Linked DNA regions of Homo sapiens: all the other regions are linked to region 2. The links come from fine-mapping of genetic effects on gene expression. A gene starts in region 2. Each other region holds a variant in brackets. All regions are shown on one strand. Distances are between the middles of the regions.

Region 1 (5,072 bases), 60 kb before region 2:
TTCCGGCCGGCTCTCTTCCTGCTTCTGCTATCTTGCTGGTGCACCCCACTAGCACAAGTAGCCTTGTGCCTTGGGACTGAGCCTGAGAAGTGGGGAGCTCATCTCCTTAAGCTTTCAGGCCCTGGGGAGAATTTTACATTGCTGTCTATTTGGTTATGGAAAAAGGACGACTTTCTCAATAACCACTTCAGGTGTGACATGGGGTGGCATGGGCACCTTGGAAAAAGAAAAACTTAATTTTGGGGCTATTCTTGAGAGACAGGTTGGTATCCACCATGTCATTGTAGCAGGAGCATCATCTGGATTGTCTGGAAAGGTGTCTGTGCCTGCAAAACAGTTATGTTGAGAGGACAAGGAGGTGTCAACAGGGAGAGGCATGGCCTCATTTGCTGCTTCACGAATGAAAGACCATGTCTGGATTAAGAAGGGGAATAATTCCTGAGTGGCTCAGAGTCTGGTAAGGGTGGAGGCCCCAAGACAAAAGTTTGGCCATACATGATTTCAAAGGGACTATAGAAAGAGGGTGCTTTTGGTGTTGCGTGGAGTCTCATGAGGGTAAAAGGGAGATTTTTTGTCCACGACTGGGGGGTTTCTAGAAGCAGCTTGGTGAGTTGGGCTTTAAGGACAGAGTTCATTTTTTCAACTTTGCGTGAAGATTGAGGCCTGTAGGGTGTGTGGAGAACTTACTTTATTTTTAAAGATGTAGAGACACCTTGGGTGATTTGGCTGATGAAAGTGGGCCTGTTATCAGACTGGATGGATGTTGGGAGTCCAAAATGGGCAATTATATGCATGATGAGCATTTGCGTGATGATATTTGTACCTTCTGAAGTTATTGGGAATGCTCCTACCTACCTGGAGAAAGTACAGACAAAAACCAGAAGATAGTGGAGCAATTTATCAGGTGGCTTGTGGGTGAAGTCTACCGGCCAATCTTGCCCGGGTACCTGGCCTCAGGCTTGGTGGGTAGGAAAAGGCAGTGGCCAGAAAGAACCTTGGGGTGACACTGAGAGGCAGATACAGCAGGACTGGGTAATCTCTTGAACACAGCTGGAAAGGTGAGGAGAAGTGAGGATAGGGCAGAGAAGTTGCAGGAGAGGTTTGTAACTGACATGGAAATATTTGTGGAGGTTTGGAGGTGAGGAAGGCTTTGAGAGTGAGGGAGAGTGAAGCACCCTTCCTTGACATACCATGGTCATTGCTTTTGAAGGTTTGGGGCTTGGAAGTCCTCCTTTTCTTGTGAGGAGTAAAGAGAAGAGAACAAGGACAAGGACAGAAACTGGCCTTGCATGGGATGTAGGGCTACTTTTTTGGCTACCTGATCTGCTGGCTCATTTCCAGCCGATATAGGATTGTCTGGGGTTTGGTGGCCTCTGCAATGAATGATGGCAACTTTCTGTGGGAGCTTGGAAGCTTGAAGGAGCTTGCTGATGAGAGAGCCATTTATGACAGGAGTGCTTTTTGCAGTTAGGAAACCCCATTCTTTCCAGATGGATGAGTGTGAGCACTACGTGGAACACATAATGAGAATTTGAATGTATATTCATCTGTTGTCTGGTTGCTAGAGTGAGAGCTTAAGTGAGGGCGATGAGTTCAGCTTTTTCGGAGGTGGTGCCTAGGAGGAGCAGATTGGCTTCAACAGTGTAGGGGCTTGTCAGTGTTTTCCCATGTAGGGAAAAACTGAACATTCAGAGCACTGTTCAGAGGAAATCACTCCTGGACATTATTTGACAAGATATTATTTGAGGGACTATCTCCTGGGTAATTCCTCAATGGGATGAAAATTTTCAACATCCTGTAGGGTGGATGCTGAGGCACTGAGGCAGGGCTTAATGAAGAGGCCTGGAGACTGAAGACAGGAGTGGTACCTGGCAGAGACACCAGTCATCAATGGCTCTGGTCTCAGCACTGACTGTGTGGAGAGCTGTGGGAGGAGCCGGGCACCTACGTAGAGACCAGCCCAGGGCCCAACCTCAACGTCAGGGGCTGGATGTGGTGTCTAGAGACCACTGAGTGAGGTTGTGCGGGTCCAGGACTCCAAGCGGCTGGAGTTGCATCATCTGTGTTAGCAGTTTGAAAATACAGATCATACAAACCCTGTTCTGTGACCATAATTGAGTCCAATGAAAAATCAAGAGCCGAATGACAAGAAATTCGCCAATCACTGAAAATTAAACTCCCTGCTGCTAAATGATAATGAGTCATTAAATACTTATTGAAATTGTCGTTAGTGTCTGTGTCCAGCCCTGGGTTGTGAGGTATGGGCAAGCAGGGACAGTGGATAAACCCTTCTCTACTCCTGCCTCCTGCTGGGATGGTTGGGGACAATGCTCTTTTGCTTCCTAGAGGAATGTCAAATAATCCTGTTTGCCTCTCTTTTCTGGACACTTCAGGGGCCTTCTGAAGTATTCAAAAAGCTAAGTGCAAGGGAAGACAATTTTGAAACTGAAGTTTGATTTTGGGAAGGCTGTTAAATGTTCGAGGTTTAAAACACTTGATATTATAAAATAGAATTGCAGATTATTATAAGTTTTTTATGTTTCCAAAATCATGATTCAGAAATTTTAAAGAAGCAAAAACCTTTTATTGCCCTTTACAGATTTTGCCAAAGAGCAGATTAGTGTCTTAGGAAGACCTTGTTATGCTTTTATTTCAATGCTCAATTTACAGAAAAACCATAAAATAACCCATTTTTTAAATTTAGTCAATATTTTTACATAGAGAACCTCTTATGCAAAATTAATTTCCACAATTCTTCCACCACTTCTTTGAACCTTCAGATTTTTCCTATCTAATTTAAAACTATCAGCTGGGTGCAGTGGCTCACATCTGTGATCCCAG[C/A]ACTTTGGGAGGCCAAGGCGAGCAGATCACAAGGTCAGGAGATCAAGACCATCCTGGTCAACATGGTGAAACCCCATCTCTACTAAAAATACAAAAATTAGCTGGGTGTGGTGAAGCACACCTGTAATCCCAGGTACTCAGGAGGCTGAAGCAGGAGAATCGCTTGGACTCAGAAGGTGGAGATTGCAGTAAGCTGAGATTGCACCACTGCACTCCAGCCTGGCAACAGAGCAAGACTCCGTCTCAAAAAAAAAAAGAAACAAAAAAAAGAAAAACTATTCTTTAACCCTAGGCAACAGTTTACATTTCCACGCCTTCTTGTAATCTTTTACTAGAGAACACATTTTACTGTTTTTAAACACCTTGCATGAAAATCTATTTTCAGTAGTTTCAATTACATGATATAATAGTAACTCCTACAAATTGTTACTGTTAAGGTAAAATCTGGTAAGTTGCTTTAATTGTGTGCTAAGTGCAGCCAAGGTTTACCTTCTTAATTAAGGGTGTGGTTAGTTCCCTATGTCCCCAGGCCCTACCAATTTTGAAGCAATCAACACAGACAGTTCTCAAAACCCAAAAAGCAGTTTACAACCTGGGTTAGTTCCTAAATCAAGTTTTTTTCTGGCTTAATACTTGGCAGTTCTGAAATAGCTGCAATTTGTCCTAGTTGAAATATGGTAATGAGAATTATAAAGAGATTTTTAAAGGAGCTCAGTGGTTAAAAGTCAGCTTAATTAAAAGCTAACATCCTTTTAAAAACACACCTCAGCCCTCTCCCTCTCCCTCCCCCTCCCCCTCCCCCTCCCCCTCCCCCTCTCCCTCTCCCTCTCGCTCTCCGTCTCCGTCTCCCTCTCGCTCTCCGTCTCCCTCTCGCTCTCCCTCTCCCCACGGTCTCCCTCTCATGCGGAGCCGAAGCTGGACTGTACTGCTGCCATCTCGGCTCACTGCATCCTCCCTGCCTGATTCTCCTGCCTCAGTCTGCCGAGTGCCTGCGATTGCAGGCACGCGCCGCCACGCCTGACTGGTTTTGGTGGAGACAGGGTTTCGCTGTGTTGGCCGGGCCGGTCTCCAGCCCCTAACCGCGAGTGATCCGCCAACCTCGGCCTCCCGAGGTGCCGGGATTGCAGACGGAGTCTCGTTCACTCAGTGCTCAATGGTGCCCATGCTGGAGTGCAGTGGCGTGATCTCGGCTCACTACAACCTACACCTCCCAGCCGCCTGCCTTGGCCTCCCAAAGTGCCGAGATTGCAGCCTCTGCCCGGCCGCCACCCCGTCTGGGAAGTGAGGAGTGTCTCTGCCTGGCCGCCCATCGTCTGGGATGTGAGGAGCCCCTCTGCCTGGCTGCCCAGTCTGGAAAGTGAGGAGCGTCTCCGCCCGGCTGCCATCCCATCTAGGAAGTGAGGAGCACCTCTTCCCAGCCGCCATCACATCTAGGAAGTGAGGAGCGTCTCTGCCCGGCCGCCCATCGTCTGAGATGTGGGGAGCGCCTCTGCCCCGCCGCCCCATCTGGGATGTGAGGAGCGCCTCTGCCCGGCCGAGACCCCGTCTGGGAGGTGAGGAGCGTCTCTGCCCGGCCGCCCCGTCTGAGAAGTGAGGAGACCCTCTGCCTGGCAACCACCCCGTCTGAGAAGTGAGGAGCCCCTCCGCCCGGCAGCTGCCCCGTCTGAGAAGTGAGGAGCCTCTCCGCCCGGCAGCCACCCCATCTGGGAAGTGAGGAGCATCTCCGCCCAGCAGCCACCCCGTCCGGGAGGGAGGTGGGGGGGGGTCAGCCCCCCACCCGGCCAGCCGCCCCATCCGGGAGGGAGGTGGGGGGTCAGCCCCCCCGCCCGGCCAGCTGTGCCATCCGGGAGGGAGGTGGGGGGGTCAGCCCCCCGCCCGGCCAGCCGCCCCGTCCGGGAGGTGAGGGGCGCCTCTGCCCGGCCGCCCCTACTGGGAAGTGAGGAGCCCCTCAGCCCGGCCAGCCACCCCGTCCGGGAGGGAGATGGGGGGGTCAGCCCCCCCACCCGGCCAGCCGCCCCGTCCGGGAGGGAGGTGGGGGGGTCAGCCCCCCGCCTGGCCAGCCGCCCCGTCCGGGAGGGAGGTGGGGGGGTCAGCCCCCCGCCCGGCCAGCCGCCCTGTCCGGGAGGGAGGTGGGGGGGTCAGCCCTCCGCCCGGCCAGCCGCCCCGTCTGGGAGGTGAGGGGCGCCTCTGCCCGGCCGCCCCTACTGGGAAGTGAGGAGCCCCTCTGCCCG
Region 2 (5,072 bases):
AGAAGAAAGAAAGAAAGGAAAGAAAGGGAAGGAAGGGAAGGAAAGGAAGGAAATGTTAGTTGCTTCTTTCTTTTTTTCTTCTCTTCCTCCCTCCCACCCCCATTTCTTCTTCGTCAATCTCTCTAATATGCCTCCTTCATTTCTGACCCAGAAATGCCCAGTCCCTGCCCAGTCCCTCCTTTTCTGGTCCCACCTCCTCTCCCCAACTCTGGCATTCCCTAACCCAACCCTCCTCCTCCTAGAACATCCAGAGCCACTGTAGTTAGAATCACTTCCTTGGGGCTCTAGTCAACCTCCCCAGTCACACAAATGGGTTACTCCTCCCTTCAAAAATCCCTCTAAAATGATAGTAAACAATCTTAAAAAGAATACTACCCACAAAGACAGGAAGAATGGGAGAGATGACAATGGCAGGTAAAAAAGGTCACTTTGGAAGATGAATAACAAATGGCAGATTAAAGGAAGTTGTAATCTACTTGAGAGGTGAATCCATTTGTTCTGGAGAACGCTTGAGAGACTCAGGGCTTAGACACACAGGAATCTCAAAGATGGGGAGGCAGGAGTGGCAGGTGTTCCCAGTTGTCTCTCCAATAGCCTGTCACCCTTCCTTCTTGCCAAGAGACCTTGATTTTATCCAGGGCCATGATGTACCCTGCTAAAATAAAAACTCAGACTCTCTTGCCACTAGGGGCAGCCCCCCAATCCAGTTCTGGCCAATAAAAGTCCACTTGGAGGACTTCTAGGAAAGCTAGAGAGCTTTCCTGAATTAAAGGAACAAAGGGGAGCTGGCAAAAGCCTTCTTCCCTTTGCCCTTCCCCATTCCTTCTGCCCCAATAGTGATCAAGGTGCCTAGGAGCACCATAAATGTGAAAGCCACATGCTGAAGGGAAGAGAAGGAGATGGGACATCTGTGTCACCTTGGAGCTGCTGCACCAGCCTGGGCAGCAACCACTAGATGTCTTGTTGTTGTTGTTGTTGTTGTTGTTGTTATTGTTGTTTTCAAATCAACAGTTATCTGGTTAAACCACTGTGGTCACGTTTCGTCAGGGACAGTTGAATACAATCCTTAATCCATAAAATGATTGTTGATGGAACATCGTCTACAGAGGAGTTAGCCAGATTCCTTCTCCTATCCCACAGAGCCGGACAAAAAGATGCTTCCTCTTTCCTCCTCAAAGACCAGAAGTTTATTTTCTAGAGAATTTATCTAAGAGACTTTGGATTGGGATGGGGAATACGAAGCCCATCAGAGAAGTAGATAAACGCATGAGGCTGAGATGGGAGGATCAAATGGAAACCAACATTCTACCTGCTTGGGCCACCAGCCACCTTCCCCAGCCTCAGCCAGATCACTGAATTCCAGATCAATCAGGAAAAACAGTAGAGATGGGGTTTGAGTTAGGGCTAGGCATAGGGTAGGGTTCAGGTTCCTATAAATAGCTGAAACCAAATGATGGTGAGCTGTATTATGATGACACAACTAGGCTCACGACCAGTTGAGACGTGCTAAAATAACCCTCTTCCAAGAGGTGAGTGTGGGAGACAGAATAACGGCCCTCAAAGGTGTCACATCCGAATCTCCACCTGTGAACACTCCTCACATGGCAAAAGGGACTTTGCAGATGAGAATAGAAATTGTAAGAAAGGGAGATTATCCTGGGTTATCTGGGTGGGCCCAATGTCATCCCAAGGGACTTCCTTTAAGAAGGAGGCAGGAGAGTCAGAGTCAGAAAAGAAAATCGTGATGATGGTGACAGAGAGAGAAGTGACGTAGCAGCAGAAACAGGCCAGAGGGAGAGAGAGTTAAAGATGCTAGGCTGTTGGCTTTGGCAATGGAGGATGAGGCCATGAGCCAAGGATACAGGCAGCTTGTAGAAGCAAGAAAAGACAGATTCTCTTCTGGAGCTTCCCGAAGGAACTCAACCCTGCAGACCCAGTTTGAATTTCTGACCACCAGAACTGTAAGATAATGTGTGTTGTTTGAAGCCAATAAATTTGTGGTAATCTCTAACAATAGGTCACTAGAAAGGGAATGACTGATCCTTAGTGGGGTGCCAGGGAGAAGGCTTTGCAGGAGGGGTTCATTTAAACTGGGCCTTAAGGCAGGAAACGAAGGTAAAACAGGAGTAAAGGGAATTCCCAAGAGTGGTAAAATATGTTATCAGTTGTGGGTAAACAAGAAGGGAAAGGACTCTCCTATCCACAGGAGATCAATCACAGTTTGCCTGGATCTGTCCCTGTTTATGCCCATTGTCCCAGTATAATTTTTTTTTCTTTTGATTCGGAGTTTCACTCTTGTTGCCCAGGCTGGAGTGCAATGGCGCGATTTCCACTCACCGCAACCTCCGCCTCCCAGGTTCAAACGATTCTCGTGCCTTAGCCTCCAGAGTAGCTGGGATTACAGGCATGCGCCACCACGCCCAGCTAATTTTGTGTTTTTAGTAGGGACAGGGTTTCTCCGTGTTGGTCAGGCTGGTCTCGAACTCCCGACCTCAGGTGATCCGTCCGCCTCGGCCTCTCAAAGTGCTGGGATTACAAGGCATGAGCCACTGCGCACAGCCTAGCGTTGCTTTTCAATCTGCAATTACAAAATCGTGGCATGCCACTTCACGCTTCTCGCCACCAACCCAACCACCCAGCCCCTAGCCTGGTCAGGAGCAGGAGGTTCCCCGCGTGCCACCAGGAAGCTCGGGCCGGCCAAGAGCGTAGACTCTTGAGAGGAGTGAGACAGGTGCGCGCCAGCCGGCCTTCGGGGCTTTATGGGAACTGGGCCGTGCGGCGGTCCCGCCCTCGTGCGCAGGCGCAGAACCGTTGTGACCAGAGCGGTTGCGGGCTGAGCGGTTTCGAGCCGGCGTCGGGGAGCGGCGGTACCGGGCGGCTGCGGGGCTGGCTCGACCCAGCTTGAGGTCTCGGCGTCCGCGTCCTGCGGTGCCCTGGGTAAGTCGGCGGCCCTCCCGGAGCAGCCGCCCGAGACGCGGGAGGGCGAATGAAATAAACGAAAATAGACATTTTCCCGAAGGCGAAATAGACATCCTCCTTCGGCGCCGGGGCTTGGAGGCGGGCGGCGGTGGGCGCGGGTTAACGTCCCCGGGGAAACTGAGACCCCCAGCAGGTCCGGGCCGGGGGCGGAGAGGAACGCGGGAGGGCGCCGGGCCCCTGGGCTTTTCGTACCAAGCTCGACCGAGCCGCCCCTACCCACCCCCAGCTGCGAACCCAGCCGTTCAGAACAGAGACTGGGCATTGTCCCCACAGGGTCTCCCGAGGACCTTGTACCCGCGCGGCTTCCTTGGGCTGGCTTTGGACGACGCTTTCGCCTTCCTGCTGCCTAGGATCCGCCGACATGAATCCCATCGTAGTGGTCCACGGCGGCGGAGCCGGTCCCATCTCCAAGGATCGGAAGGAGCGAGTGCACCAGGGCATGGTCAGAGCCGCCACCGTGGGCTACGGCATCCTCCGGGAGGGCGGGAGCGCCGTGGATGCCGTAGAGGGAGCTGTCGTCGCCCTGGAAGACGATCCCGAGTTCAACGCAGGTAAATGTGCCTTTCAGCTAGTAAATAATGTGAGTCAGGTCAAGCTCCTTCTTCAGAATAAATAGAACCTACATAGTGTTAGGGAATCTAATGAGCTTTGGGGTGAAACTAAGTATGTAAAAAAGAAACAATATTTAATTTTTCTACCTGTGCTGAAAAGAGTCAAACGCTAAAATATTTGTAGAGATTTATACTGAGGCAAATATGAGTGACCAATGGCCTCTGATACAGCTCTTGGGAAATCCTGAGAATGTGTGCTTCTGGAGAGACATAAGATGTCAATCAGTACATACAAGACATACATTGGTTCCATCTGGAGAGGTGAGACTACTGGGGGAGGGGGAGTGGTTTCCAGGTCATAGTTAAGATTCAAAGATTTTCTGATGAACAATTGATTTAAAGTTTTGTCCAAACACCTGGAATCCACAGAAGGGAATGTCTGGATTATATAAGGACTTGTGGCTGCAGATAGAATTAATAGAAGGCGGTTTAGCACGGTGGCTCACGCCTGTAATCCCAGCACTTTGGGAGGCCAAGGCGGGTGGATCACCTGAGGTCAGGAGTTCGAGACCAGCCTGGCTAACAGGTGAAAAGCCACCTCTACTAAAAATACAAAAGAAAAAAAAAAAAAGCCAGGCGTGGTGCTAGGAGCCTGTAACCCCAGCTACTCGGGAGGCCGAGGCAGGAGAATAGCTTGAACCTGAGAGGCAGAGGTTGCAGTGAGCCGAGATCACTCCAGCCTGGGCGACAGAGCGAGACTATCTCAAAAAAAAAAAAAAAAACTGAAAAAAGAAGGGAATGTCTGCATTAAGATAAGAGGTTGAGGAGACCAAGATTTCCCTTAGGCAGAGGAAGTCTCCAGGTAGCAGTCTATTGAGAGAATAAATTGTAAATGTTTCTTATCAGAGTTGATTCTCTCCTGAATCAGGAAAAAGGCCTAGAAAAGGAAGGGGATTCTCTTCAGAATGTAGATTTTCCCCACAAGAGATAGCTTTAGCTTTGCAGGACTATTTCAAGATATGGCGAAGAAACGTAATTTGGGGTAAAATACTTCACTTTCAGGGCTTGCTATCTGTCATGTGATGTCATACTAGAGTCCCGCTGGAATTTGGTATCTTATTGCTACAAAGTCTGCTTTGTCAGTCTTAAGATCTGTTTTAATGTTAGTGCTGGTCAGCTGGGCCTGAATTCCAAAAGGGAGGAGGGAATAATGAGGCATGTCCTACCTCCCCCGACAAGGTTCCAAAGTTTTCAGGTTAACTTTGGAGTGCAGAGTGTATTCCTTTGTGTTTCGCTTCTTTCACTCAGTCCACCCTTTTTTGGAATACTAATCATTATAGCTAATATGAGTATCTACCATGTATCAGGCAGTGGTCTAAGAAATTTGCTTGATTTATTGAATCTGAACATTAAATGAGTTGATCATGTAACTCTCTTAAGTTGGTTAACTTGTGTTAAACTAACTCAAGTTAACTCATAATGAACATTAAATGATTCACTTATGAGTTAATCACTTAAACTCAGTTGAGTTAAATGAGTTAG
Region 3 (5,072 bases), 62 kb after region 2:
TAATCACTGATCATCTCAAGAGTTAACTTTTTTGCTATGCAATTATCAGCACTTTCTGGATCATGTGCAGAACTCAGATAAGTGTTAGAGTTCTTATCCACAGCAGGCAGCCAAGGAGAAAAGAGGTTGAGTCTTCCTGTCCTATCTCTGTAATACTGAGGCTCCTCTCAGCAGCCACCGGCCTCATGCCTGCCCGCCTTGGCCCTGGATTGTCACCTTGCAGGGCAGCAGTTTGTTATTAAACTTTTTTGTTTGTTTTTTTTGAGACGGAGTCTCACTCTGTTACCCAGGCTGGAGTGCAGTGGCGCGATCTTGGCTCACTGCAACCTCCGTCTCCTGGGTTCAAGCGATTCTCCTGCCTCAGCCTCCCGAGTGGCTGGGACCACAGGCACACGCCACCACGCCCAGCTAATTTTTGTATTTTTAGTAGAGATGGAGTTTCACCATGTTGATCAGGATAGTCTTGATTTCTTGACCTCGTGATCCTCCCACCTCGGCCTCCCAAAGTGCTGGGATTACAGGCGTGAGCCACCGTGCCCGGCCAAGAATAATGAAAAATGTAAAGCACATGTGAGAAAAAAACAACAAAAAATGGGGGACGCTGGGCATGGTGGCTCATGCTTGTAATCCCAGCACTTTGGGAGGCTGAAGCGGGCAGATCACCTGAGGTCAGGGTTCGAGACCAGTCTGACCAACATGGAGAAACCCCGTCTCTACTAAAAATACAAAATTAGCCGGGCATGGTGATGCATGCCTGTAATCGCAGCTACTGGAGAGGCTGAGGCAGGAGAATCACTTGAACCCGGAAGGTGGAGACTGTGGTGAGCCAAGATCACGCCATTGCACTCCAGCCTGGACAACAAGAATCAAACTCCGTCTCAAAAAAAAAAAAAAAAAACCACGGGAAAAATTTCCTATCAGCCAGTGAATATCACTATTAAAATCTTACTGTATATTCTTGCAGATCTTTTTCTGGGTGTGTATATGCATAATTATTTTTTCAAAAGTGAGACCATGCCATGTATGTTTCAGTTAACACTCTCCACCATTGCTTGCCAAGAAATGTTCACCTTACCTAATATTTGGTCAATATTCAAATTTCCCCAGTTTTCTCAAAAATTGTCTTTTTAGCAGAATTGTTCAAATCCAGCACCTTTCTTACTGGCACTGCTTGCTGGGTAGTTAGGGCCCCGGGCCCCTCGGCGTCGCATCTTCTGCTTGTCAGGCTGCCCCTCGTTGAGTGAGGGAAGCACCTGGCTGAACACCACCACAGGCGCTGGGGGCCAGGCCGACCATTTCAAACAGAAATGTCGACACCCTGCCACCGCAGGAGCCATGCAGCGCTGGCCTGTGGGCTGGGGAGGGTTTGGAAAGGGAAATATGGGTTGTGCCAAAGCACAAGGCCCCACCCAGAAGTTTGGCAAAGGGTGACTTGGAGTGAGAAGAGCAGGTGGGGAGCAAGTCCACCCTGCGCCACCACCAGGAAAGGACCTGCCCCCACCCTTCCTCAGCGGCCTCTTCCCAGGTCACTTCCCCTCATACAAAAAGCGTGTGTGCTCCCTTCCCAGCTCCCCTCACCTCAGCCTTTCCCACACAGCTAGGAGCCAGAGCTACCCCACGTGCTTGTTGGCCAAAGGGCCACTTTCAGAAGTGTTTACAAATTACCCCAGGTGGAGGCCACTCACACCAAATCCAGGAACATTTACCTCGGGCATAGAACCACATTCCCTGGCTACCCAGTGAAGATCCCCGGGGGCTCGAACCCCCAAATTCTCCCAACTTTCTTTGCAGACACCAAGTATTTCATCTTTTTTAAAAGTAAGAAACACCAAGGCCAGTTCCCCTCCTCCTCCCATCTGCTCCCCGCCCCTCCCCTGGGCCCACTCCCGCTAGCGGCGGCGGCTCATTGCAGGCCGGCATGTCTCCCCGGTGACCTCACCCCAGATCTGGCCTTTCTCTGTCAGGCCTCACAATCTTCCGGGCCATCTTTGTTGTCTTATCTCTGGCTTTGGCACAAATATCACACCCTGGATGCCTCATGACTAAAAGTCCATCACTTTCCCCAAGC[C/T]CTTTCCCTGTCTTCCCTAGAAATTCCAATATATGGCCAGGCGCAGTGACTCATGCCTGTAATCTCAGTTCTTTGGGAGGCCAAGACAGGCAGATGACCTGAGGTTAGGAGTTGAAGACCAACCTGGCCAACATGGTGAAACCCCGTGTCTACTAAAAATACAGAATTAGCTGGACGTGGTGGTGCAAAACCCCGTGTCTACTAAAATACAAAATTAACTGGGCGTGGTGGCACATGCCTGTAGTCCCAGCTACTCAGGAGACTGAGGCAGGAGAATTGCTTGAACCCGGGAGGCAGAGGTTGAAGTGAGCCAGGATCATGCCACTGCACTCCAGCCTGGGCGACAAGAACAAAACTCCAACTCAAAAAAAAAGAACTTCCAACATATTTGTCCACTGCTCTCAAGCACAAAGGGTCAGGACTCAGGGCAAGGCACCCTGCAGAACTGAGAATTCTCCCCACACTCGCCTCCTTAGCATTCCCAGCCCAGAGTTCTCACTTGGACTCGTGTAGAGAACAGGCAGCCAGTTCGTGTGATTGCAGATCTTCTGCTGTTGTTCTGCCGGGTGCCCCACCGGTGTGTCTGCACCAGCTCCTTCAGACAGGAAGCCTCCTTCGTGCCAGCTCTACAGTGGCCTCCCTGGCAAGGGGCTTCATTTTATTTGAGAGAAAGGGTACCAACACTGCTCCTGTCTCTAACCACCATGGCTACGGCCCTCCTGCCCCCTCCCCAACTCAGCCAGCCCCTGGCCAGGGTCTGCCTGCAGCGGGCTCAGATGGGGAAGGCATGAGTGTCCTGCTGGTGTGAGCAAGATGTTCCAGGCACCTCTAGGACCCAGCGGGCAGCACTGCCCTGACCTTCCTGGGGTCAGCTCCCAGGATGGGGTACAGTTGGCCCCTGGAGAGCTACCTGTGAGGGCTAGGGCACAAGCAGCATCAGGACTAAGCTGCAGGCCATTTGGTGCCACCCTGGCCCTGCCTGGGCTCTGAGACCCCATACCACACACAGCCTGGCTTTTGAGCCCATCTCAGCATCGAGGCTGCCCGTGGCGGCCACTAGGGTGGCAGCTGGGCCTGTGCTCAAGGATGAAGACCCAAGAATAAGGAAATCCCACCTCCTTCCCTGAACTCTCCACCCACACCAGTCCATCACAGCCCCTCCCAGAAGCGCTATCCCACCCATCCTCCAGAATGAGGTCACGCAGGGGGCTCCAGGGATTCCTCCTGCTGCCTGGATCCAGTCTAAACCCCTTGGCCGACTTTCAAGGCCCCATAGGCCAGCCCCTCCTGGCTGTAGGCCGGGTCCCCCACTGCCCCCCAGGATATGAGGGGCTCCCCAGGCCTTTGCACACCCAATTCCCTCTCCAGAAATGCCTTTCCTCCCTCAAAGGTCCTCACAGGGGGAACAGTAGTAACCTCTCTGAGAGGGTTGTTATGAGGATTGATTAACAACTGGAAAGTTCTCAGAAGTGTGCCTGCCCCTTCATAAGCCGTCGGTAAATGTTAGCTATTATTTTATTAACCATACCAACCAGAGTGAGCCGTTCCTTTTCTGAGCCCTGGCCCTCCTCATGGTCACCAGCCAGCAGCTTCTGAAATGCACCTCTGTTCCATGGACCCAAAGTTGCTTTAACCATTTTGGACACATGGACCAGCAGGGGCGCGGCTATTTCTGTGCAAGGCTTGGGCACTGGGCAGAACCCCAACCCTCCATGCTATTAACACAGAGGAGAACCCCAGCTTCATATTTTATGTTTTATGAAACACGTTTGCATCTATTTCTACTTTGTGGAGTAGCCAGGGCAGAAATCATCATTGCCATTTTCCAATCGGGGCCCCTGACACTCAGTGCTGTGGAGTGCCTTACCCGCGTCACACAGCAGGTAAGTGGCTGAGGCAGGCTTCGAGTTCAACTCTGCTTGATCCCAGGCCCAGGGCTTCTTCCTCAGCACCAAGCTGGGTCACAACCAGTTAAGTGCATCTCCCTCCTTCTGAAAAGTAGCTCAGATGCCAGAGGAATTAGAGACGGCCGCACAATGAAAACCAGACGCCCTGCCCCTCGTCTCTGGACCAGCTCCCAGGAAAGGGAGGACAGCTGGCTGATATGTGGCCTCTGCGCCCCGCCCTGCCCATGAGCTCAGCTCTGGCAGAAAGAGCTCCTCACTAGGGAAGGCCTGGTGAGCCCCTCGGCCTGGGAAAGCCTCTCCACAGAGCCAGGGCCAGACCACAGGGCAGCCGAACTCCAGAGGTCAGAACAAGGAGTGCCCAAGGCCAACCGCATTGCCATTAACCCTCTGTAACTTTCCCAGTCCTGCAAACTAGGTGCTGTGCCTGTTTTTCAGATGAGAAAACCGAGGTTTGGAGAAATGCGATTTTCACGCTAGCAAATGAGGATGCCAGGATGTGAGCCCGTATCATTGCAGCTGCACCTTCAGGCCAGTTCTGGGAAGCTCATAGTTGGGGGCTGGGGGAGTGGCTGTCCCTCTGTAGCTGCCTTGAGAACAGAGACCACCTCTGTCTTGCTCATAGCCATTCTCCGGCACCATGTGCAATAAATATCTGTGAAATGAAAGAATGAATCCCTAGATGCGTCCTTCACTTGTCCTGAGGAAGGCGGGATTACAGGTGCTTCAGCCCTGGCTGCGAAGGTGCCTGGTTGAGGCAAGCCCACCCTGAGGCCTGGGAAACACAGCCAGCCCTGCCCACCACCCCTCCTAACCCCACAGCCTACAGGGCAACTCCATCTGCACCAGTGACTTCACAGGGTTGGGGTCCCCTTGCCCTCTCTCCCTCCCCTGCCTTTGAGGACAAGAGCTCAGCTCCCAATCACTGGTGAAGCTCTTACGGGAGGGTCCCCAGCAGGTCAGGGCCTGCAGGAAGAGAGAGGGCAGGGCTCCATGAGAACAAGAGTTGGGGTGGAGGGAGCAAATGTGGGGGTGGTGAGAAGCTGAGAACAGAACAGGGGGATACAGGAGTACACACCTGGGGGCCCCCAAGTCACTGG
Region 4 (5,072 bases), 440 kb before region 2:
AGCGTTCACAGCAGCAAGGAATTCAAATCAGGCTAAAGTTACTTCCAGAGCGCTGGTCGTCAATCTTCCATCAGAACCACCTGAAAGGCTTCCATCAGAACCACCCAGGAGGGTTATTCGGTGGGTCTGGTGTGGAGGCAGAGACTTACATGGCCAGTTCACAGGTGATGCTGACCGGCTGGTTGGGGAAATGCACTTAGAAAACCCTAAGTATATTTCTCTGATATGCTAATATTTTGTCTTGGTCTAAAGAGGACCAGTATCCCCAGAAGGGCAGAGGGGGCGAGTTCTCCCTGGTACCAGGAGCTCCTGCCTTTGCTTGTCAGGACATCCAGCAAGGCCCATGATGTCATCAGGCACCGGGGCTGCCTGGGCCCTCTCCACTGAGGCACCCACTGACCATATCCTGGAACCCCAACCTGGCACATGTGTGTGGGGGTGCAAGAGCATGGCTGGTGGCCCTGGCCCAAGGGGGCTGCAGGCACCCCTACCCCGTACCATGTTCACACAGCACAGGAATGGAGAAGGCAGATTCTTGAAGGAATGCATCCCCTGCACCAAAATCCACTGAAGGCATGGACCTGGCCCTGGCCCCACCTTCAGCAGCCCTGAGTGGTCAGATGTGGCCATCCTAGGGGCTTCTTCCTTGGAGCCAGCCCTGGCCTGGTCTCAGCCCCTGTGTGTGAGGTGGTTGGGGGTTGTGATAGGTTAGAACCTCCACTTTCCCCAGCTGCCCCCAGAAGAGATGGGGAAGATGAAGGGGGGGCCACAGAATCATGCAAGAGCCGTGAGTGAGGGCAGGGATCACAGCCCTATTGGCCAAGTCCTCCTCGAAGGGATCACTGTGGAGGCCAGGCGGAGCTCCTCAGAATGCTCCTCAGGAAAGAGGGGCTGCACACAAATGGGCAACACACACACGAAAAGGTGCTCAGCATTGCTAATCATCAGAGAGCTGCAAATGAAACCACAATGAAATACTGTCTCACACTTGTTAGGAGGGCTCCTATAAAAAAGAAAAAGGCCTGGAATCCCACCACTTTGGGAGGCCGAGGCAGGAGGATTGCTTGAGCCCTGGAGTTCAAGACCAGCCTCGGCAACATAGCAGGAACCCCGTCTTTAATAAATAAATACATAAATGAAAAAATCATGCCAGGCATGGTGGTTCACGCCTGTAATCCCAGCACTTTGGGAGGATCTCTTGAGCCTAGGGGTTCGAGACCAGCCTGGGCAACATGACAAAACCCTATTTCTACAAAAAAAAAAAAAAAAAAACTAGCAGGGCATGGTGGTGCGTGCGCCTGTAGTCCCAGCTACTTAGGAGGCTGAGGTAGGAGGATCGCTTGAGCCTGGGAAGCAGAGGTTGTAGTGCCCCAAGATCATGCCATTGTACTCCAGCCTGGGCTACAGAGGGAGACCTGGTCTCAAAAAATCAAATCACACGTGTTGGCAATGATGCAGAACCCTTGTGCATTGTGGGTAAGAATGTGAAGTGCTATAGCCAACTATAGAAAAGAGTATGAAAATGGCTTTAAAATGCCTATGATTCAGCAATTCCATTTCTGGGCATATACCCAAAAGAACCGAAAGCAGAGTCTTGAGGAGATATTTGTACATCTATTTTCTTAGCAGCATTATTCACAATGGCCAAGAGGTCATTGTGAGGCAGCACAACTGTCCATCCACAGACACTGGATAAACAAAACGTGGTCAGGCCAGGCGCGGTGGCTCACACCTGTAATCCCAGCACTTTGGGAGGCTGAGGCGGGCGGATCACCTGAGATCAGGAGTTTGAGACCATCATGGCCAACATGGAGAAACCCTGTCTCTACTAAAAATACAAAAATTAGCCAGGCATGGTGGCGCATGCCTGTAATCCCAGCTACTCAGGAGGCTGAGGCAGGAGAAAGGCTTGAACCCAGGAGGTGGAGGTTGCGGTGAGCCGAGATCGCACCATTGCACTCCAGCCTGGAGTAATAATTAATTATAATATAATAAAATTAAAAATAAAAAATAAAACGTGGTCTATGCATACAATGGAATATTATTCAGTCTTAAAAAGGAAGGAAATCCTGTCACATGCTACAACAGATGGACACTGAGGACATGAAGTGAAAGAAGCCAGTAATGAGAGGACAAATACTGCATCATCCACTTAAATGAGGGCCCTCGTGCAGTGAAATTCATAGAAAGTAGAATGGGGGTTGCCTGGGGCTGGGAGGAGGTGGAAATAGAGGGTTGATTAATGGGTACAGAGTCTCAGTTTTGTGAAATGAAAATGTTCTGGAGATGTTTCGGAACACTGTAAATGGACTTAG[C/T]ACTACTGAACTATACACTTAAAAATGGTTAAGGGAGGGCCAGGCACAGTGGCTCACACCTGTAATCCCAGCACTGTGGGAGGCTGAGGCGGGCGGATCACTTGAGGTCAGGAGTTCAAGACCAGCCTGGCCAACATGGTAAAACCCCGTCTCTACTGAAAAAAAAAAAAAAATTCACACACAAAAAATTAGCTGGGCATAGGGGCTCATGCCTGTAGACCCAGCTACTTGAGAGGCTGGGGCAGGAGAATTGCTTCAACCCGGGAGGCGGAGATTGCAGTAAGCCTAGATTGCGCCACCGCACTCCAGCCTGGGTGACAGAGTGAGACTCCGTCTCAAAACAAAACAAAACAAAAACAACAATTAAAAAAAAAGAGTTAAGGTAGTACAAGTTATGGGTTTTTTACCGTAATAAAATGAAAAAGGCAAGGAGGCTGCGAAAGCCATTTAGTCCTATATTTCCAACTCACAGATGAGGAAACTGAAGCCCAGAGAGGAGCGACTTTGCCCAGGTGCACAGCCCCGGCAGGAGTTCCATCAGGACAGTCTTGGCAGACTGGAAAGCATCCTGCAGGAGTGAAGCACGCCAGTGCGCAGCTGGTCTCGGCTCAGCGCCTCCACCCTCAGAGGCCAGAGTCGTTGCTAGGTTTGAAGAGGGGGCCAAAGAGGGTTAAAATGTTCACATGTGCCAGGGGTACTCAGAGAGGCCCAAGTGGGTTATCTAGAAAATCCATTTAAGAGGAACAACTCCCTCGTGGCTGATGTCGGCTAACCCTCCCCAGCCACCTTTAAGCACATTGCAGGTGTCTAGGAAAGGGAATCCAGGATGCTGGTTCATACTGTGGGCTCCAGGGCTGGCCTCATGATTCCTATCCCGGGGCCATCATTTCCTCTGTGGCACTTCTGTGTGCCTCATTCTACTCATCTGCAAAATGGGAGAATAGTACTCTATAAGGTTGCTGTGAGGATGAAATGAATTAGATCATTTAAAGGGTTTAGAATCATGCCTGGCACAGTCAGTGCTCAGCTATTATCTCTCGTTGGGAGATACTGAGAGTGTATGTCCATCCTCCAGGCATTTCAGTTCTCTGTTTATGACCCCACTTGGGGTCTGACAGCAGGCTATGCCATTGCAGGGGCAGGCAGCGCGGGTCTGGGGTATGGGACCCTCTGCCTGGCCCCTGGAGTGTGGTCTGGTGTCTCCTAGGTCTTCAGTGTTGCTGGGCCAGGAGCACAGAAGCTGGGGGTAGGGTGGACAGCTCCAGGGCCCAGACCTCCAACTTCCTTTGGCCCCCCAGCTGACCCAGGACTGACAGAGAGGAGAGAAAGCGACTGCCACGCAAGAGAGGCTGTGGGGATCACAGCAGTGAACACAGCCTCTTGCGCCCTTTTCTGACATCCTCCTTTGCCTGCCTGCTTTCCTCTCTTCCATCTGATGCCCTGTGCGTGTTCCTGGTATGTTTTTGATTGCCAGTCTTCCCCCTGGACATTCTCAGCTCAAGCACAGGTGTCCCCAGCATGGGTGGAGGGCTTCCTGTGGTCCTGGCCAGTCCACAGCTAGCCTGACCTACCAGCTGAGTGGCACCAAGGCCTCAGGCCAATACGGAAGTCCCCACAAGGTGTCACCAGCCCAGTAGATACTGACCCGACTCAGAAGCTGCTATGCTCTCCACCACCCCAAGAAGGCATCTATTGGCCTGGGCCCACATCCCTACAGGTGGGGAGGGGCTCAGCCACCACAAGACACCTTCCCAGCCCCACTCTGGGTCCTCAGAGGTCCTGGCCACCCCCACCTCTTCCAACTGTGACTGCTGCCCCTTGCTGAGAGCTCGTCTAAGACCTGGGCTTCCATGGTCCCCGCCTGTGCTTCCAGCAGACATCACCAATCAATCCTGCCACTGTCCCACTGAGCAACAGGCAGCCTCGATGCTTTGCCTCTGAGCTGCAGGCTTCTGTGAGACTGGAGGTAACCATTGCTGGATGCAAGGAGACCCAGGGGAGGACCTGGCCAAGGTGCCACAGTGAGGCAGTGGGAGAGCCAGCCTTGGTGCCGTTCTTCCCAACAGCAGGCCACCAGCCACGGGGAGAGGGAGGCCTGGCTCATCCCCCAGTAACCCACAGCCCTCTGAATACTAAGGGAGGACTCAAATAGTCCTCCCCACAGCAAGTAAGTGGTGATGGCGGAGGTGGGGTGGCTTCAGGATTTGGGTTTAATCCCAAGCACGAGGGCGGGCAGGGAAAGGATTTGGTTTCATTCCTTCAGATGCCCAAGCCTTGGCCAGAGCCCCAGGGTGCAGGAGTGAGGGCGCGTGGCCACCCAGCCTGTACCAACAAAGCCTGCCTTTATTAAATAGAGATCGCGTTACATTCCATCCAAAGAAGGAAATCCGGACGTGGTGAGGGATGCGTCCAGGTGGGAGCTCCGAACGCTGGTCCTGAGTGGGCTCTGATGGGTGGGAGGGCCCAGGTCCTGCCTGCCCACCCAGGCCCCACATGCCAGGGCGCGTGTCTGCATGGCCACCCACAGCTGAAAACAGGCGTGGGTGATCTGAAGCCCTGTCTGTGTTCTACTGTGGCAGAAAGTGCCCCAGTCCTTCCAGCGGTTTTGGGAGCAGGGCCTCCAGGAGCACAGGGCTGAGACGGGGTGGGAGGGAAGGTGACAAGGGAGGCCTTTATGAAGGGGGAGGGAGGAAGGGGGAAAGGAAGGGAGGAAGCGGGGGAGGGGTCTTGACTCATCTTAACAAGGCTTTGGGGCAA
Region 5 (5,072 bases), 26 kb before region 2:
ATAAAGGAAAATGGGGTATTTATCCTCTCAAGTGCTTATCCTTTGTGTTACAAACAATCCAATTATACTATTTTAGTTTTTTTGTTTGTTTGTTTGTTTGTTTGTTTTGAGATGGAGTCTCGCTCTGTCACCCAGGCTGGAGTGCAGTGGCGCCATCTCGGCTCACTGCAAGCTCCATCTCCTGGGTTCACACCATTCTCGTCCCTCAGCCTCCCCAGTAGCTGGGACTACAGGCGCCTGCCACCACGCCCGGCTAATTTTTTGTATTTTTAGTAGAGATGGGGTTTCACTGTGTTAGCCAGGATGGTGTCAATCTCCTGACCTCATGATCCACCTGCCTCAGCCTCCCAAAGTGCTGGGATTACAGGCGTGAGCCACCGCGCCCAGCCTATTTTAGTTATTTTTAAGTTTGGTTAAATTATTATTGACTATGGTCACCCTGTGTGCTATCAAGTAGTAGGTCTTATTCATTCTTTCTATTGTTTTGTACCCATTAACCATCCTCACTTCCCCCCACCCACTCCTCTACTACCATTCCTTCTACTCTCTTATCTCCATTAGTTCAATTGTTTTGATTTTAAATCCCACAAACAAGTGACAACATGAAATATTTGTCTTTTTGTGCCTGGTTTATTTTACTTAATGTAACGATATCCAATTTCATCTATGTTGTTGCAAATGACAGGATCTCATCTTTTTAATGGTTAAATAGTATCCATTGTGTATATGTACCACATTTTCTTTACCCATTCTTCTGTTGATGAACACTTAGGTTGCTTCCAAATCTTGGGTATTGTGAACAGTGCTGCAACAAACATGGGAGTGCAGATATCTTTTCAATATAACAATTCCTTTCTTTTGGGTATATACTTAGAAGTGGGATTGCTGAATCATATAGTAGCTCTATTTTTAGTTTTTTGAGGAACCATCAAACTCTTCTCCATAATAGTTGTGCTAATTTACACTCATGCCTACAGTGTATGAGGGTCTCCTTTTCTCCACATCCCCTCCAGCATTTGTTATTGTCTGTCTTCTAGATATAAGCCATTTTAACTGGGATGAGATGATATCTCATTGCAGCTTTTGATTTGCATTTCTCTGATGATCAGTGGTGTTGAGCACCTTTCTCTCACCTCATTTTGTTTTCTGTTTCCTATACTTTTTTCTAACTTTCTTGCTTACATTAGAGTTTAATTCTGCCACTTTACATTTTCTACTTCCAGCACTTTTTAAATGTTCCTACTATGGACTAATTTCATTCTGCTGGTTCGAAAGTTATGCATTGTATTTTTGCTGTTCTGGTGATTGTCCCTTACTTACTGACCTATATATAGGTATAATTTTTCCATCAATCCTTTAACTTATTAGTACCTGTGTTGTTCCCCAAATAAAATAAGTGCACTAGCTCAGTCTCACCTCCCTTCAATCACTCCTACGTTATACCTCCATCCTCAACATTTCACGACATCTAAAATTAATCCCCGGTCATCTCAGTTCACTTTCTCTTTTATTAGTTCTTGTTTTCTTGGAAAACAATAAACTTTACTAAAATATTTGCTTTCCCACACCTCTCATATCAGCATTCTGGTTTTATTTCTCTTCTTACTGAAGTTCTTTCTTTAAGATTCTGTCCACAGAAAGGTTTTGTGTGACAAGTCGTATTAGGCTGTGTATTAGTCCATTTTCACACTGCTGTGAAGAAATACCTGAGACTGGGTAATTTATAAAGGAAAGAGGTTTAATTGACTTACAGTTCTGCAGGCTGCACAGGAAGCTGGTGGCATCTGCTTCGAGGTTTCAGGGAGCTTTTAGACGTGGCGGAAGCCAAAGTGGGAACAGGCATCTTACATGGCAAGAGCAGGACCAAGTTGGGGGGAGGGGCCACACACTTTTAAACGACTAGATCTCAGGAGAACTCACTATTGTGACAACAGCACCAAGGGGAAATGACGTTAAACCATGAGAAACCACCCCTATGATCCAATCACCTCCTACCAGGCCCCACCTTCAGCCCTGGGGATTACATTTCAATATGAGATTTGGGTTGGGACACAGATCCAAACCGCATCAGGCTACGTGTATCAGTTAGAAATATGTTTGGCTACAAATAACACCCAAATGACTGACATAAACAAGATAGTGGTTTCTTTTTTGTTTTTGTTTTGTTTTGTTTTGTTTTGTTTTGTTTTGTTTGAGACGGAGTTTTGCCCTTGTTGCCCAGGCTGGAGTCCAATCGTGCGATCTCGGCTCACTGCAACCTCCACCTCCAGGGTTCAAGCCATTCTCCTGCCTCAGCCTCCAGAGTAGCTGGTATTGCAGGCACATGCCACCATGGCTGGCTAACTTTGTATTTTTAATAGAGATGGGGTTTCACCATGTTGGCCAGGCTGGTCTCAAACTCCCAACCTCAGGTGATCCACTTGCTTCGGCCTCCCAAAGTGCTGGGATTTCAGGCGTGAGCCACCGCGCCCAGCCGGTTTCTCTTCTTTTATTTAAAAGAAATCTGGGAGTAGGCAGTGTAAAGTTGGTACACTGACCCCATAATAATCAATTTCCCAGGCTCCAGGCTCTTTTTTCTGTGTCTGAATTTTACCCTACTCAGTTTATGGTTTCAATACTCAAGGTGGCCTCATATTCTAAGAATGCCAGAGCTCCAATCATCATGTCCATGTTCTGGGAAGGGACAAGGAGAAAGAGAGGGAGAGCAAGGGGCACATTTCCCATCCAGATGCGCTGCCTGGGCCGGGTGGGTGAGGGCTGCCAGCAGAGCAGAAGTTGTCCTGGAGAGTTACACATTCACCACACAGTAGCTCATCTGAGTCTCTGGCCGAGTCCTGGCCACCGGCTGCAGTAGCTTTTTCCCCGTGAAAGTTAATCTTCAGGAAATGGGCATCCCACTCTGTGTGTGGCAATGAAGTCCAGGGCTTTCAGGTTGAAGTTCCTCTGCCTCTGTTACCCACAAACATGAGGCAGCCCCAGAGACATTCAACAGGACCGGCCCGCGGTGCTCTCTGCCGCTGCGCCACAGCACCACCTGCTGGTCAGG[A/G]GACTGCTCGGCATCCCTGCCGTGGCTGGAACTCCTCCGGTCAAGATCAAGTGGAGCCTCTCCTGCGGGGCTGGGCGTGGTTGCTCACACCTGTAATCCCAGCACTTTAGGAAGCCGAGGCGGGCAGATCAACTGAAGTCAGGAGTTCGAGACCAACCAGGTCAACATGGTGAACACTCCGTCTCTACTAAAAATACAAAAATTAGCCGGGCGTGGTGGCAGGTGCCTGTAATCCCAGCTACTTGGAAGGCTGAGGCAAGAGAATCGCTTGAACCCGGGAGGCAGAAGTTACAGTGAGCCAAGATCGCACCATCGCACTCCAACCTGGGGGACAAGAGCGAGACTTCGTATCAAAAAAAAAAAAAAAAAAAAAAAAAAAAGGACATTACAAGGAAGTGCCGCAGCGGGCTGTGTGCTCTGCTCTGAGGAAGTGCCACAGCGCGCTGGGTCCTCTGCTCCGGCTGGTACTGTAGAAGGAGGCATGTAGCCCTTGATAGCATTTTCGGGGCAGGGTAATTCCCCATTTTATGCTCAATCGCAAGACCTTAATTCTTTTCTTTTCGTTTCATTTCTTTTCTTTTCTTTTTTTGTAGATAGAGTCTCATTCTGTCATCCCTGCTGGAGTGCAGTGGCACAATCACAACTCACTGCAGCCTCAACCTCACCGGGCTCAGGTGATTCTCCCACCTCAGCCTTCCAAGTAGCTGGGACAACAGGCGTGTGCCACCACACCTGGCTAATTTTTGTATTTTTTGTAGAGACGGGGTCTCATCATGTTGCCCAGCCTCATCTCAAACTCCTGGCTCAAGCAATCCACCCACTTCGGACTCCCAGAGTGCTGGGATTACACACACGAGCCACCACATCCAGCCTGGCTGTTAAGTCTTAATTCAGGGCAACTAATTCTTTCCAATCCCTACACTCTACCTTCCAGGCCAGCCCAGAATAAGACTAGCACCTCCCACCTCATGAACCCAGAACTACCCTTCTTGCCTCCTCAGTAACCAGCCCCCCACCCCAGAATGAAATCATTTATCATTTAAGCCCTCAAAATACATAGAGTCTTATCATAGTCTTCTCCTCAGATGCACGGGGCCTCCTTCCCTACTTCTGTGTTTCCAAGGATGGCTACTGTGATGGAGGTCTTGCATTGGTACCCACCCCACCTATCATCATAATTTATAATTCTCTATCTTGCTCCAGGACCTGGTGGGCTAACCTGCGTGTTCTACAAAGACAGACCCCTTTGCCCTCTGGATTCCAATTGGATTTGGCCAATGAGAAGCACTGGCAAGAGATAAGGGAGAGAGCCTGGGCCCGATGGCTCACACCTGTAATACCAACACTTTGGGAGGCCAACGCAGGCGGATCACCTGAGGTCCAGGAGTTTGAGACCAGCCTGACCAACATGGCAAAACCTAGTCTCTACTAAAAATACAAAAATTAGCCTGGGTGGTGGGTGTGCCTGTAATGTCAGCTACTTGGGAGGCCGAGGCAGGGAGAATTGCTTGAACCCAGGAGACAGAGGTTGCGGTGAGCCAAGATCGTGCCACTGTACTCCAGCCTGGGCAACAGAGCATTACTCTGTCTCAAAAAAGAGAGAGAGAGACAGACAGGCAGGCAGACAGAAAGAGAGAGAGAGATGAGGGAGAGAGGAGAAAGAGATCAAGTCTTTATTCCCCCACCTCCCCCCTTGTAAGGTGGCAGCATCCCTTGACCAAAGGCCACAGCTCATATCAAGCAGCATCCTCTGCAGAGCTCTTTCTGTCCCCAGGTTCTGGTAACTGCTTATTTCCCTTATATCTTCAGGGCTAGGAGTGGTCACAGAGCCCTGTCGCTCTGGTCCTAGGGTACTGTTCTATCCCTTGTGCTTCCTACCTCCTGCCCACACCTTTGTAAAGAGTCCCCCTGTGTATTTCTCCTCGATCTGAGTGTGCTCTCTCCTGCCAGGAGCCTAATACAGTTACCTTCGGTGGCAGTGGTTTCAAGGTGGTTTTCTATACCAGGATGCGCTGCAAAAACCTAG
Region 6 (5,072 bases), 450 kb before region 2:
ACATGATCTACTAGGGGTCCCCTTGCCTGCTTTTATAGGCCCAGGGCAGCTTGGGGACTGGGGGGCTGGTAGGGTGCCCCTTCTGGAATAACCTGGGCTGACTTGGCTCACTCATTACAGAGGAGGGGGCTGTATAAGTGCAGATCTCACCCCCTCTGGACATGAGTCTTGAAGGAGGGGCAGCAAAACTGGTAGAAAAAAGGGCAGAGGGAAGGCTGGGGGTCCCCAGGAAGCTGTCTGGGCCCCCAGCTACCTGCAGAGCTGGGGCTGGTGTACAGGGGAGCTGGGAGGGAAGAAGACTCTTGGGGTTCTACTGACCCCACTGGGTGTTTTTTTTTTTTTTTTTTTTTTTTTTTTTTGAGATAGGGTCTTGCTGTATCGCCCAGGCTAGAGTGCAGTGGTGCAATCATGGCTCACTGCAGCCTCAACCTCCCGGGCTCAGGTGATCCTCCCACCTTAGCCTCTCTCGTAGCTGTTAGTACAGGTGTGCACCACCATGCCCAGCTAATTTTTTATTTTTATTTTTTGTAGAGATGAGGTTTGCCATGTTGCCCAGCTGGTCTTAAACTCCTGGGCTCAAGCAATCCACCCACCTCAGCCTCCCAAAGTGCTGGAATTACAGGAATGAGCCACCACGCCCAGCCCAGAAAAACACTGAAAAATTTTTTTGAGACAGGGCCTCACTCTGTCACCAGGCTGGAGTGCAGTGATGCAATCACAGCTCACTGCAGCCTTGAAATCCTGGTCGTAAGTGATCCTCCCACCTCAGCCTCCCCAGCAGCTAGGACTACAGGCACATGCCACCATGTCTCATTAACTTTTGAATTTTTTTGTAGAGTCAAGGTCTCACTATGTTGCCTAGGCATGTCTTAAATGCCTGACTTCAAGCGATCCTCCCACCTCAGCCTCCCAAAGTGTTGAGAGTACAGGTGTGAGCCACACCTGGCCTCTAATTTTTTTATTTATCTTTTATTTTTTGAGACAGAGTCTTGCTCTGTCGCCCAGACTGGGTTGCAGTGGCATGATCTCGGCTTACTGCAACCTCCACCTCCCAGGTTCAAGAGATTCTTGTGCCTTAGCCTACTGAGTAGGTGGGATTAGAGGTGCAAGCCACCACACCAGGCTAATTTTTGTATATTTCGTAGAGTCGGGGTTTCACCATATTGCCCAGGCTGGTGTTGAACTCCTGAGCTCAAGCAATCCTCCCGCCTTGGCCTCCCAAAGTGTTGGGATTACAGGCATAAGCCACCACGCCCAGCCAATTTTTTAAAAATTGTAGTAAAATATACATGAAATTTACCATTGTAAGCATTTTTAGGTGTCCAGCTCAGTGGTATTAAGTGCATGCACAGTGTTGTCCAACCATCACCATCATCCAGCTCCAGAACCTTTTCACCTTCCCCAACTGAAACTCTGTCCCCATTAAACACTAATTCTCCATTCTCTCCTCCCCCTGCCCCGGCAACCACCATGCTACCTTCTGTCCATACAGATCTGCCTCCTCCGGAAACCTCATCTGGGAGAAATCACATGTTTGTTCCTTTGCCTCTGGCTTGTTTCACTCAGCACAATGTCCTTAAGGTCCATCCATGTTGCAGCACGTGTCAGGATGTCCTACCTTTTTAAGGCTGAGCCAGCGTGATGGTGAGTCCCTCTTTCTCCTTTGAAACTCCCCAGACACACACGCACATGCAGACACACCCACCAGCCCACACCAGCAGGCATCACTCAGACACTCAGAAACATGCCCACAATCACGGCCCACATGAACACTCAGCCAAACACAGCCTTGCACACATGGTACGCAAAGATGCAGCTGGCACGCACAGACACACCCGGCGCAACGTGCAAGCTGTGGCTGCGGCCCCAGAATCTCCTCCCTCCCAGCCCTTCCCTCTATCACCCCATGTCAGTTCTGGGGCCACCTTATTGAGCTGAGGATCTTGGGTCCAGATTGGTCTCCTCGCCTCCTTTCCCGTTGGTCCTGATTCACCCAGGCCAGCCCTGTCGAGGCACTGACAGGGGAGGACAGAACCAAGCCTGCCCCAGGGCCTTCAAGCCAGATCTACCCCTTGCAATGATAAGGGGAAGTGTGAGCCCCCTCAGGGCTGTGTCAGAGAACCCCAAAGCCATTGACAGGGCTCCAGCTGGGGAAGGGACAGGTGGGGCTGTGACAGTTCCCTGGGAAGCAGGCTGGGCTCTCAGAGCTGGGTGGGCACCCTGGGGCTGTGCTTCTCATGCTATCAGGGAGTGCGAGTAGGGCAGGGGCCTGGACTCAGGCCGAAACCTGGAAGCAAACAGCCTTCTCTGGAACTGGCTGAGGTCATGTGACCTGGTCCTCTGTGGGCCTCTCCTTAAGGATGGGGGTGCCAGGCAGAAGCTAAGACTCAGAGAGGTTAAGCTACTTCTTCAAGGTCACACAGTTCCATTTGACCGAGGTTAGATCAGAGTCCAGGTCTCTTCTCACTCATAAGTGAGAGTTGAACAATGAGAACACATGGACACAGGGAAGGGAACATCACACACCGGGGCTTACTGGGCGGGTGAGGGGCAAGGGGAGGGAGAGCATTAGGACAAATGCCTAATGTATATGGAGCTTAAAACCTAGATGAGGGGTTGACGGGTGCAGCAAACCACCATGGCACATGTATACCTATGTAACAAACCTGCACATTCTGCACGTTTCCCGGAACTTAAAGTGAAGAAAACAAAAACAAAAGCGAAAAACTGTGCTTGTCGCCACTCCTGGAACAGAGGGGAAGCAGCAGTTCTCCTAGGTGGTGTGC[G/A]GGGGTCCTTGCCGTGAGGCCAGTCACTATCTCAAGAAGCCAAGGGCCCAGCTGCTGGGAGCCTGGGCTGGGGGGCAGGAAGGCGGTTCTTGGACCTCATCAGTGGAGCCTCAGGGAACTGTGGGAGGTCCCACCCTCACACACCCTAAGTGCACCCAGGAACATCCACCCAGGGGTACGTGCACAAAGCCCTGTCCCCCCAACCCCCACACGCACCCAAGCGAGTGGAAAGCGGCACTCGACGTCTCTCATCGGGTACCGGAGCAGAGCTGGGTGAAAGTGCTGGAATCAAAACGGCACCCCTAAACACAAGCTCCTGGAGGTAGCGACAGGCTCTGTTCACAGTGGCATCCTCAGAGGCCGGCACAGAGCAGCTGCTCAACAGCAGGTATGAACAAGTAGACAAGAGCCAACCCTCCACAGCCCCCAAAGCAGGGGCACGAACCATTTTGCTGGTGAGGAAATGAAGGCTCAGCGGGAAGGGACACCTGCCCAGGTCCCAGTTAGTAGTGGCAGAGCTGGGATTCGAACCCGGGCCCATCTTCTGTGATGTTCATGCTCTCTCAGGATACAGAGACAGCTCAGCCTGGCCTTGGTCCCTGGAAGCCTAGAGTGGCTCAGTTGGCCCCAAGATCCCACGCCCTGCCCAAGCCCCACCGTGAATCCCACACAGCAGCTGGTCGGGGGGGTGTCCCAGAGCCAGCCTGCCCAGGATGGAACCTGAGCTGCTATCCAGGAGCCAGGGAGCCCCAGACAAGACCACACCCATCTCTCATCAGTATTTCTCATCAGTAAACTGGGAACCACAAATCCCCATCTCACAAGGCTGCTGGGAGGATGCAGTCGGTGGCGCTAAAGCACTTAGAAGGGGCCTGGCGGTTGGCAAGAGCTCCACAGCCCAGCTCTTTCTGAGCCCTGCAGCCCTGATGAGCCTCCTCCTGAGAGTCCACTTAGAGGTAAGTGCCTGCAGGAGGGGCCTACAGGTGTCAGGGAAGAGAGTGGAGAAGCTGCTTCTCTGCCTGCCTGTTAAGTCCTGGCCAAGCCTGAGGCTGGGAGAGAGGAGGGGCTGGCAGCCTCCTTCCACCCCAGAGACACAGCAGGGCAGGGAGGGATTTTGGGTCACTCCCTAGGAGAATCAAGAATGTGCCAGATCAGTCAGGAAGGGGGTGAAGCAGGGAGTGTGGCAGGGCTGCTGAGGGCTCAGGTGGTCGGGGTCTGTCCTCGCTGCCTTCTCATGCCTTTGTAGGATGTTGGGGTGACAGGGCTATGCCTCAAAGGACACCCCCAGGACATTCCTGCCTCTCCCCTCTCCCAGGTGGGTGGGTACAGCAGGAGCGTGCCCAGCACACCATGCTCCGTCCCATCCTCTCCCTGGCGCCCGTCAGAGGAGGCCAGTGGGGAAGCACTATCAGTATCCCATTTTACAGATGAGGAAACTGAGGCCCCAAGAGGTCCCAAAGAAACACAGCTCTAAACATGGGACATCCAAATTTGGCCTGTGTAGCGGAGCCCAAGTCGAAGGCAGACACCCCCAAAAAGCTACCCCTGTCCCCCAGCACCCCTCAATGTCCTGGTGAAGGGTGGGCATATATGTGAGGGCTCCTGCAGCCAGGACGCTTGGCCTCACAAGTGTCCCTGACCCCACAGTAGCCCCAAAGCAGCTATACCCTCTGGCTCCTGGTCCTCTCTCCACCACTGACCTCTGGCTCCACTACTGGAGCCTGGCTGTTTCATCAGAAACCCGCAGGAAGAGACCGGGAGGGATGCCCAGGGGCAGTATCCTGCTGACGCCAGACAATCCCAACTCTTCCCACAAGGAAGGAGCAAGGCACTGCAGCCCCTCTGGGGAAGGGGCCTGGGTGGGCGGTGGCCTTGCAGAAAACGCCTGCGGGGAGCCCAGAGCAGTCACACTTCATGGGAGTGGCCATTAGGGGACTTTCAAGGCAGTCAATGTGGTAGGAGGGAGTGGAGTGGCTCTGGAGCCACCCCCCAACCAACTCCTGTGGCCTCAGATCTGCCTAATCCTAGTCCTGTCCCTCCCCAGCTCCCACCCAGACACAAACCCCACCCTCGTGGCCCGAGTACAAAGGCCCTACCCTTCAAGGGTCCTGAGAAGGTTCCATTACACCCCCCAGTTTCAAACTCAGTCTCCTCATCTACAAAATGGGCTAACAATAGGACTTACCTCATAAAGTTGTTAGGCGAATTCAATCAGTTACCACATCTAAACCCCTCAGAACAGTGCCTAGTCAATAACTGTTGGCTGCAATTACTATGAAGCAGCCT

Alleles and levels. Positions count from the first base shown, and alleles are read on the strand shown. Sizes are in standard deviations (SD) of each study's normalised expression. Not every link is listed here.
For the expression in breast of the gene that starts at base 2,811 in region 2, allele G in region 5 goes with a lower level than allele A (small effect, 0.25 SD a copy in GTEx).

Evidence for each region. PIP is the estimated chance that this variant, and not a neighbour inherited with it, causes the effect.
Region 1: its variant is fine-mapped to the expression of ASRGL1 in whole blood (INTERVAL, PIP 0.96).
Region 3: its variant is fine-mapped to the expression of ASRGL1 in whole blood (TOPMed, PIP above 0.99).
Region 4: its variant is fine-mapped to the expression of ASRGL1 in cerebellum (GTEx, PIP above 0.99).
Region 5: its variant is fine-mapped to the expression of ASRGL1 in breast (GTEx, PIP 0.95).
Region 6: its variant is fine-mapped to the expression of ASRGL1 in spleen (GTEx, PIP 0.97).

Annotation. Positions count from the first base shown.
Region 1 is chr11:62,274,232-62,279,303 of GRCh38, forward strand. No RefSeq gene overlaps it. Among named protein-coding and RNA genes, the nearest start is that of SCGB2A2, 6.6 kb to the left of the region's middle. The variant C/A (reference allele first, on the strand shown) is at 2,842.
Region 2 is chr11:62,334,638-62,339,709 of GRCh38, forward strand. ASRGL1 (asparaginase and isoaspartyl peptidase 1) reads left to right here and starts at 2,811. Exons shown (of 7, transcript NM_001083926.2): 1 at 2,811-2,937; 2 at 3,253-3,530. The coding sequence starts at 3,341. RefSeq lists an enhancer at 2,722-3,391.
Region 3 is chr11:62,396,785-62,401,856 of GRCh38, forward strand. It overlaps a transcript of ASRGL1 not described here. Among named protein-coding and RNA genes, the nearest start is that of SCGB1A1, 20 kb to the right of the region's middle. RefSeq lists enhancers at 1-302, 303-802, 1,470-2,114. The variant C/T (reference allele first, on the strand shown) is at 2,069.
Region 4 is chr11:61,892,661-61,897,732 of GRCh38, forward strand. RAB3IL1 (RAB3A interacting protein like 1) reads right to left here. Exons shown (of 10, transcript NM_013401.4): 10 at 4,641-5,072. Among named protein-coding and RNA genes, the nearest start is that of FADS3, 3.7 kb to the left of the region's middle. The variant C/T (reference allele first, on the strand shown) is at 2,316.
Region 5 is chr11:62,308,301-62,313,372 of GRCh38, forward strand. No RefSeq gene overlaps it. Among named protein-coding and RNA genes, the nearest start is that of SCGB1D4, 12 kb to the left of the region's middle. The variant A/G (reference allele first, on the strand shown) is at 3,047.
Region 6 is chr11:61,881,770-61,886,841 of GRCh38, forward strand. All of the region lies in intron 1 of FADS3 (fatty acid desaturase 3), which reads right to left. Among named protein-coding and RNA genes, the nearest start is that of MIR6746, 6.0 kb to the left of the region's middle. The variant G/A (reference allele first, on the strand shown) is at 2,787.